Regions from separate parts of the Homo sapiens genome. Here all the other regions are linked to region 3. Evidence: fine-mapped expression QTL. A gene starts in region 3. Each other region holds a variant in brackets. All regions are shown on one strand. Distances are from middle to middle.

What was found. PIP is the estimated chance that this variant, and not a neighbour inherited with it, causes the effect.
Region 1: its variant is the best candidate, but not a certain one, in a credible set for the expression of LMBRD2 in fibroblasts (GTEx, PIP 0.76).
Region 2: its variant is the best candidate, but not a certain one, in a credible set for the expression of LMBRD2 in whole blood (INTERVAL, PIP 0.89).

What each region holds. Positions count from the first base shown.
Region 1 is chr5:36,086,767-36,089,536 of GRCh38, reverse strand. No RefSeq gene overlaps it. Among named protein-coding and RNA genes, the nearest start is that of UGT3A2, 21 kb to the right of the region's middle. The variant C/A (reference allele first, on the strand shown) is at 1,228.
Region 2 is chr5:36,121,590-36,124,359 of GRCh38, reverse strand. LMBRD2 (LMBR1 domain containing 2) reads left to right here. Exons shown (of 18, transcript NM_001007527.2): 7 at 95-169; 8 at 1,399-1,512; 9 at 1,897-2,080. Among named protein-coding and RNA genes, the nearest start is that of MIR580, 25 kb to the left of the region's middle. The variant A/G (reference allele first, on the strand shown) is at 1,156.
Region 3 is chr5:36,150,599-36,153,368 of GRCh38, reverse strand. LMBRD2 (LMBR1 domain containing 2) reads left to right here and starts at 1,482. Exons shown (of 18, transcript NM_001007527.2): 1 at 1,482-1,813. SKP2 (S-phase kinase associated protein 2) reads right to left here and starts at 1,258. Exons shown (of 10, transcript NM_005983.4): 1 at 1,099-1,258; 2 at 327-598. The coding sequence starts at 1,106. RefSeq lists enhancers at 952-1,141, 1,215-2,198 and silencers at 1,412-1,551, 2,152-2,211.

The sequences.
Region 1 (2,770 bases), 64 kb after region 3:
ACTAAAGTTGAAGTACTCATACTCAGGAATTTTACTGTATATGTACATATATATATATATATATCCACATGTGTATATGTGCACCCAGAGATATGTAAAATATTCTTCATAGTAGCATTATTCATAATAGCCCAATCACAAACAACTCATTCAACAGAATGAATTTTCCTAAAAGGATGGATAAATTCACTGAATAAATGGAAATGAATTTGTTACAGCTATACAACAACATGGATAAAACTCACCAACATAATATGGATCAAAAGAGGCAAAACAGGAAAAAATAATCGAATATAATTTTATCTACATACAATTCAAAAGGAGGCAAAATAAAATTGTAGAGTTAAAAGAGGAATGCCTAGTGGTAAAAACATTTAAAACATCAAGGAAGAGATTACCATACATGTCAGGCTATTGCTTACCTTTGAGGGGGACCAAGGGATTAGTGATTGCAATGATGCACAGAAGAGCCTTCTGGATTGCTGGCTACGTTCTATTTTTTGACTTCGGTGGTGGTTTTACAGGGGTTCGCTTTGTAGTGAATTATTAAGTAGTACCTTCTTTTGTATGTGCTTTGCTGTATGTACATTTTATTTCATCATAAAAAGGCAAAACTTACATATAGAGAGAATTAAATTACACAACTCACCATATAAATTGGGAGTGGAGGAAATAGTGTTATAGTGTTTTTAGGTTGCGGTAATATTCAGAAAGAGGGTAAAGATATTGCTTAACGTAGACTTTGAGAAGTTAAGGACACTTGTTAGAACCTCTGCAATCATTAAAAGAATAGAAATGGGATATAGCTTTAAATAGAAGAAAGATAGAATGGTTTAAAATATATATCCAATATAGCCAAAACAGGAAAACTACCAAAACCTAAACTTTATTGTTTAGAAATACATACATAGTTGGGCAAATTATAAAGAAAGTCAAGTGAGGGGACTGACTATAAAAGTCAGTGCTTCCGATTCAGAGATATCACTCAAGGGGCAATGTTTTGTTTCTTCACTTGAATATTTTTTACAAGTATGTTTCTATTCATCCTTATTCACTATACTGTATATTTATATTTTATGCACTTTTTTGGATATGGGTTACATTTCAAAATTTGAAAGGTTTGTTTGTTTGTTTGTTTGTTTTGAGACAGAGCCTTGTTCTGTTGCCCAGGCTGGAGTGCAGTGGTGTAATCTCGGCTCACTGCAATCTCCGTCTCCTGGGTTCAAG[C/A]GATTCTCCCACCTCAGCCTCCTGAGTAGTTGGGACTACATGTGTGCACCACCACATCCAGCTAATTTTTGTAATTTTAGTAGAGATGAGTTTCGCCCTGCTGCCCAGGCTGGTCTCAAACTCCTGAGCTCAAGTGATCCCCCCACCTCAGCTTCCCAAAGTGCTGGGATTACAGGCATGAGCCACCGTGACTGGCCGCAAAATTTAAAAGGGTTTTAAAAAGGAAAATAAATTATTATAAATCACATTAATGGTGGAAAAGAGTAAAGTCACATGACCATCACAAATGGATGCAGGAAACATTTAAATAAAATTCAATATTTATTTATGTGTTTTAAAAGTCCTAGGAAACAAGGAATAAAAGTAAACATTCATTTTCTAATAAATGTTTATCTATTTATCTATCTACCTATAAGTAAATATGTATTCGTAAACAAGAACACAAAACTACTGCAAGTATCCTTAATGCTACATTCTTTCCCTCTGAGATCCAGAACAAGCCAAGGATGCCTGCCTTCACTACTTCTGTTCAACATTGTGTGTCCCAAAATAATAAGACAAGAAAAGAGAACTGAAAGACCTAAGGATAAGGAAAAAAAGAAACAAGCTTTTATTTCTTATGACATGGTTATGTATGTGAACAATTTTAAAACTACTAATTATTAAAATTGATAAGAGAGTGGTATCTCTTAATATGGTGTTTGGGAACTTTGGTTAAGTCAGTAAACCTGAACCTCAAACTCATTATTTGTTTAAAAAAAGAGAAAGGGGTGTCTTATCATACAATACTCCTCACGGTTGCTGTGAGGATCATAATCAGATAATGCCCTTGCAAATGCCAACCATAATGCTGCCCCATAGCAGGGACTCATTTGTTAAGAAACACTGAACATCTGCATGGTTAGCTCACCCTCTTCCTTCAGGTCTTTATTGGGAAGTCATTTCTCAGAGGGGACTTTCCTGCTTTATTTTTTTCTCCTTATCACTGCCTAATATACTATATACTAATGCTCATCTCTCTACTCAAATACAAGCTCCACAGGGGATGGTTTTTGTTTGTCTTATTTGAAGAATCACCCCTGCCTGGCTCATAGTAGATGCTCAACAAATTTGTGTTGACTCAACAGATAAATGGGTGCATTTCTTTAACTGGCAGGATCAACCAGGTATAAATGAGTGAATTTAGTGAGTCACCATCCTGCCCTGATCTGGGCTACTGCATTATAATAGGTACAGGTGTATTCATTAGTATACTAGACAGGGAGACCCTCGTGCTGCTTTTTAAACCTCACCACTTCTCTGTCTCTTCCCTGTGAGTTGGGGTGGGGTGGGGAGTACAGAATTAGTTAGAATTCGTAAGAAGGGTGATGGGGCACCCAAAAATCGAGAGAAGGTTCAGAAAGGGAGACATGTGAACATCGAAGGTGGACTCTGTGTATCTCAAGTTGGTGTACTGTGTCAGTGCTGGTCAGGGCATCACTTGCCCACTTCAGCAAAGGGCCTGTCCCCTATGTGATTTCCATGGAGACCTGCCAGTCCTGGA
Region 2 (2,770 bases), 29 kb after region 3:
TTGTGAGAAAATATATAGTACCTAATGCATTCTCATTTGGAATATGTGATCTGTAGAAATGGAAATATTTTTATTTATTTTACTGTTTTTATAGGAGGTTCGTAAAGTGAATGAAAGCATCAAGTATAATCACCCATTGAGAAAATGTGTTGATACAATACTTAAAAAGGTAATGAAATCATCTTGTCTGTTTCCTTTTGAAATATACACTTATATAATATTATACCAAAAGTACCAGAAAAGTATGAAAACAGCCTATAGCTGAGGTCTTCTAAATTCATTTTCATAGAAATATCAACCCAACACCATTTGTACTTTGAATTTTTTTAATTACTGCAAGTTTAACACTAATTATTGGCAGTATTTTCTATTGAAATATGGAGATAGAGGTTGAGTAATATATAAGGATTGTCATGACAATGATGGAAATAAACCTTTAAAATGTCATTGTATATGTTCACTAAAGGCATATCTCCTATAAGAAAATAAACCAAGGCCTCAGTAATATCTTACAATCAGCTGCCTACACGTTATTTTACAAATATATTTCATTAATATATTCATGACATATATCATAAAATGAATGATGTTAACATAGACATTTAATAAACTATACTATATTTAACTATATTTATATTTATATATTTACTATATTTATAATAAACTTAACTATATTTAATAAAGTTAAGGTTTTGATGCATTGGTATTGAATTAGGGGTATTCATATACTTCCAAAAATGGTTATTTGCAGTTCCCCAATTGTCTTTTAAACCCACAGAACCATGGAAACATTTATTTTCCTAGATTTTAAATCTGTTATACTGATTCTTGTGTAGTGTTCTGTTTGGCTAAGATAATACTCATGGAATCACTTTTCTAACTATTTATCTCACATTTGCTACTTTTTGAGAACTACTAAGAGAGGTTAACTAAGTTGCCCAAGTTCATATAGGTAATAAGTGAGTAGTAGTATGGAAGATGACTTTAAATGCATGTATTTATTTCTCTGTGCTATGCCTTTCAAAAATTCAGCATCTTGGATTTGTCATGATTTTGCTTCATTCTTTAGCTAGAAAAATAATTTATCCTACTTAGAATAATCTTCTCAAATACTAGTTGCTTCCTGCAGGTAAGCTCCCCTGCCTATAGCCATCT[A/G]TACCTATCTGGTATATATGAACACAAAGATTAATATTATAAAGGTGAGAAGAAACTCAGTACATCTTTTAAGACATTTTCAAGAAAATATCAGCAAATGAAGTCTAACTAGAGATGACAATAAAGTAGGAAGATGTTTTTGAGAAAATTAGAACTGCTCAAGAATGAAAGATTTTTAATAAAAATAAATTTTTATCTTTTTACAATTAAGATTTTTAAAAATCTACTTTTTTTTTTTTTTAGTGCCCTACAGAGTATCAGGAAAAAATGGGTAGGAACATGGATGATTATGAAGATTTTGATGAAAAGCATAGTATCTATCCAAGTGAAAAAAGTCTGGTAAAACTGCATAAACAGGTAACTTTGTTAATTATAAGTATTTTACTTAATGATGATTTTAATTAGACTTCTAATCATTGCTCATAAAAAAAGGAATTTTTAGTGAATGTGTATTTAAAACTTCCTTTAATCCCGTCCTTATCATTCTTTGAAATATTTTATCTCTGTGTATACCAGCAGGGGTATTATTGGCGTTTGGGGAGGGAGAATTCTTCACTGAGCATAACTGTTACATTATATAAAACTGTTACATCATTTTGGAACATTAATATTCTCAGCCTGACCCAGTAAATGCCCTAGCACTTTCCCATTGTTATGACAATCCAAACATGCTCCCTAGTGGAGAGTTGAACCACTGTTGGATCAGAACACTGCCAGGTCTACCCCCATTCTCTTTTTTAGGTGATTTATTCAGTTCAGAGACACCGTCGAACTCAAGTACAATGGCAGATTCTTTTGGAACAAGCATTTTATCTAGAAGATGTAGCAAAAAATGAAACTAGTGCTACTCATCAGTTTGTTCACACCTTTCAATCGCCAGAGCCAGAAAATCGATTTATCCAATATTTTTATAATCCTACATTTGGTATGTAATTTGATATAAATTTCAAACTTTAATGATGAAAAGTTTTCTGTAGAAAGAAGTTATGTATTTTCACCAATGCAAAGTTGAATTTTATTTGTATTATTTGATTTATACCATGTGATATTAAGTATCTGGTAACATTTCCCCAAAATAACTGTTTTACTTATCATATAACATATAATCCATCAGTTTCCACTGTTACTTCACAAATAATAAAAATTCTATTAAAAAACATGTATACATCAAGCATATTTTTTATAATGCATAATATATACAATTATGCATTGCTTAATGACTGGGATTACTCTGAGAAATGTATTGTTAGGCAATTTCATCACTGCATGAGCATCATAGGGTATGTACTAAACCTAGATGGTATAGTACAGGTAGGCAATATGGTATGGCTTATTACTCCTAGGCTACAAACCTATACAGCATGTTACTGTACTGAATAGTGTAGGCAGTTGTAACACAGTGGTTTTTGTGTATATAAACATAGAAAAGATAATAGTAAAAATGCAGTATTGTAATTTTATGGGATCACCATTGTATATGCAGTCCATCATTGACTGGAATGTTGTTATGTGACACATGACTGTACTTAAAATAGTTAGAATTTTAAGTAATTTTACATCACAAGCTTGGGTCTCTTCTTCAGTCTTGACATACTACTGAAATATTTGCTTAAGT
Region 3 (2,770 bases):
TTATGTTTCTGTTAAACGGTGAAACTGAGCTGGCCTTGAGGCAGGCAGATTCCCTTCTAAGGAAAAAGGCAGGAATGTCTTCTCATGGGTTAAAATTTTCAAGGTGATTATGCACCAGAACATACATATATATATATATATATATATATATATATCTACCAAGATTCCTGCATACTTGACGACTTGCCCTATTTTGTTGAAAAATAGCTTCAGAATTAGGCAATCTTAAAAGGAACCCATGCTAAAGATCTCTGAACAAAGGTTTCCCAACAACATAGCTAAATCCACCCTTTGCATAACTGACATTTTTACCCTCATGTCCTTACCTGGAAAGTTCTCTCGATTTAGCTTAGGCCTGCGGACAATCACAAAGTCTTTGTCACTCCCTTTGCTCTTCAGCCGTTTCCGTGGGGGGCTCTCCGGGTGGCCCAGGTTTGAGAGCAGTTCCTGGGGGATGTTCTCACTGTCGGGCTCCTCTTTCTCCAGGGCGGAGACCCCCATGCCTGACAGCAGTTCAGAAGTCTTGCTGGAATCCCATCCCCACGTGAAGCTGGTGGCAACGTTGCTACTCAGGTCTGGAATCTCCTGGAGGTGCTTCCTGCAGAAGTGCACAATACCCCCGGTTCCTTTCGAAAACACACCCATAAATAATTTCAAGGCAATTAAAGAAGCTGCAGTTTATGCATTGTAGGAAACCTTCACAGCAGCTAACAGAATCGCATTTTTTATGTGCCTGCGGCGAGTTACCAAGAAAACGAAGAAATGAAAAGAACAAATCGAGAAGGCTTTTTGACTTACGATCCTGCAGAAGGCCTCAAGAATTTCTCCCAGTGGAGGGAACAGACAAGGAGAGAGACAGGGCAATCATACACTGATTGAAAACGGTGGCAGAAAAGCCCAATTAGGGAAGCCAAATAAAACCACACGCTGATCCCCGCACTAAGGCATCCATCCATTCACACTTTCCCCAAGAAGGGGCTAAGCAACCATTCACTTAACAGCATTACTAACAATATTAGCCAGTAGCGATATTCGCGGCCTAAAAGAATTATTAAGAGGGTCCATTTCATGCTCTTCCCCTTTTTGCAATCCGTTTACCTGTGCATAGCGTCCGCAGGCCCGGGAGTTTAAAATACGTGCATTAACTGCAGAGCTGCTCGCCTCCCAGATTCCCGCTTTGGCGCGCGGCGGCTCCGAGCGTGCTGCTCGGGCCCCCAGCAGCCAGACCCGCTAAGCCTAGCAACGTTCCATCCCCACTGCGCGCGCAAGGCTCTACAGCCCGCTCTGCTTCGCGGCCGCACTGAGGCCCAAGGCCTGCTGGGAATTGTAGTTTCCGTCCCGCTTCGTAGTCCGACGGGCTCGCCCTTACTTCCTTCCCTTGCAGCTTTACCCGCCTTCGAGATACCCACAACCCCCCGCGGGAGCGGGACTGGTCGGCCCACGGGGTAGGCGGGGAGGCGGAAGCGGGCGGCGCTACGGCTGACTGGGAAATGTCAGCCGCTGGACTGTAGACGGATTTTCCTTTCTCGGGAGCCCGCAGGCCTTCTGGTGATCGCCAGCGCTGTCGTCTCTGAGCGTGGATCCCAGAACCTGGACAGCTGTGGCGGCCGCCGTTTCCCGGTCCCGTCCAGACGCTGTCTGGCGAGATCGGACGGTGAGCCTAAGGCGGAACGCGTGAGGCGCTTTTGAGTCTGGGGTCCGGGGCCGAGAGCAGGCGGAAAGAGAGGGGACCCGGCAGACCCCGAGTGGCCGCCGCTGCGGGGCCCAAGTCCTTGGCTGCTGAGTGGTGACAGTAGCCCAGCCCGCCGGCCAGGTGAGAGGCTGCGAACTGCTGGCGTCGCACCTGTTCGTCCTTTTGCCAGGAAGCTTCTTCCTCCGTCGGGGAGAAGGCGGCCCTAAGAATTGGGTCTGTGGACGGGATCCTTCCTTTATCTGTAAAATAACGCACAACAGCTAAACACGCCGTTGGAACGAGAGACAATGGTTTAATTTTAGGGGAGCCGGAGACCCCAGCGGGTCCTGTGTGGTGGGAAGGCTGCGCATGCCCTTGCAGCCTTGACAGGTCTCATAAATAGCAACATGGGAATAAATGAAAGGACTGTATTTTGCAACGAGCTTTACCCGTGCACGCAGGGGGCCTCCAGCAAAGCCATTTGGTTGCTTGCTGTCGCTCAGCTGGCTACGTGTGTTTGCGTCGCCGCCTAAAAGCGAGCTGCTTTCAGCCTATCTCTGCTGAGAAGAGTTTGGGGGCAGTAAGAGTAGGGAGCGTGACATATTCCAGGTACAATGACCATGCGAAATCCATTGGGCAAACTATACTACAACTGTGACCCCGGGAAAACAGTGGAAGAGGGAAGGGGGATGAATTCTAAGCCTCATAAAAATGAAGATTTATAAAGTTCATAAGGAAGCATAACAGCTTCATCGCATATTAGAATATTCAGTGATGCTGTATGACACACCCTCTGGTTTCCTTGAAAAAATGATTCGCTCTGTAGTGAAATTAAACCTCCCTTGTGCAGGTATATGCTTGTTTCAAGCTTGGTCCTTAGCTTGAAAAGTAACTGCCTCTTGAGGAAGGAATTCATGAACCTTTAGCTCGTTCTTGAAAGATGAGATTGGTGTAAAGAAGGGATCTGTTCACAACTTGGTTTTGATTGGAACTAGGTGCAGAATCCTAGGCTAAGCCGTTCATCAAACTAATGTTATATGGAAAGCATTTTAAAATGCAATATCCTGATGTTTTACAGAAAGTGACCTTTATGTTACT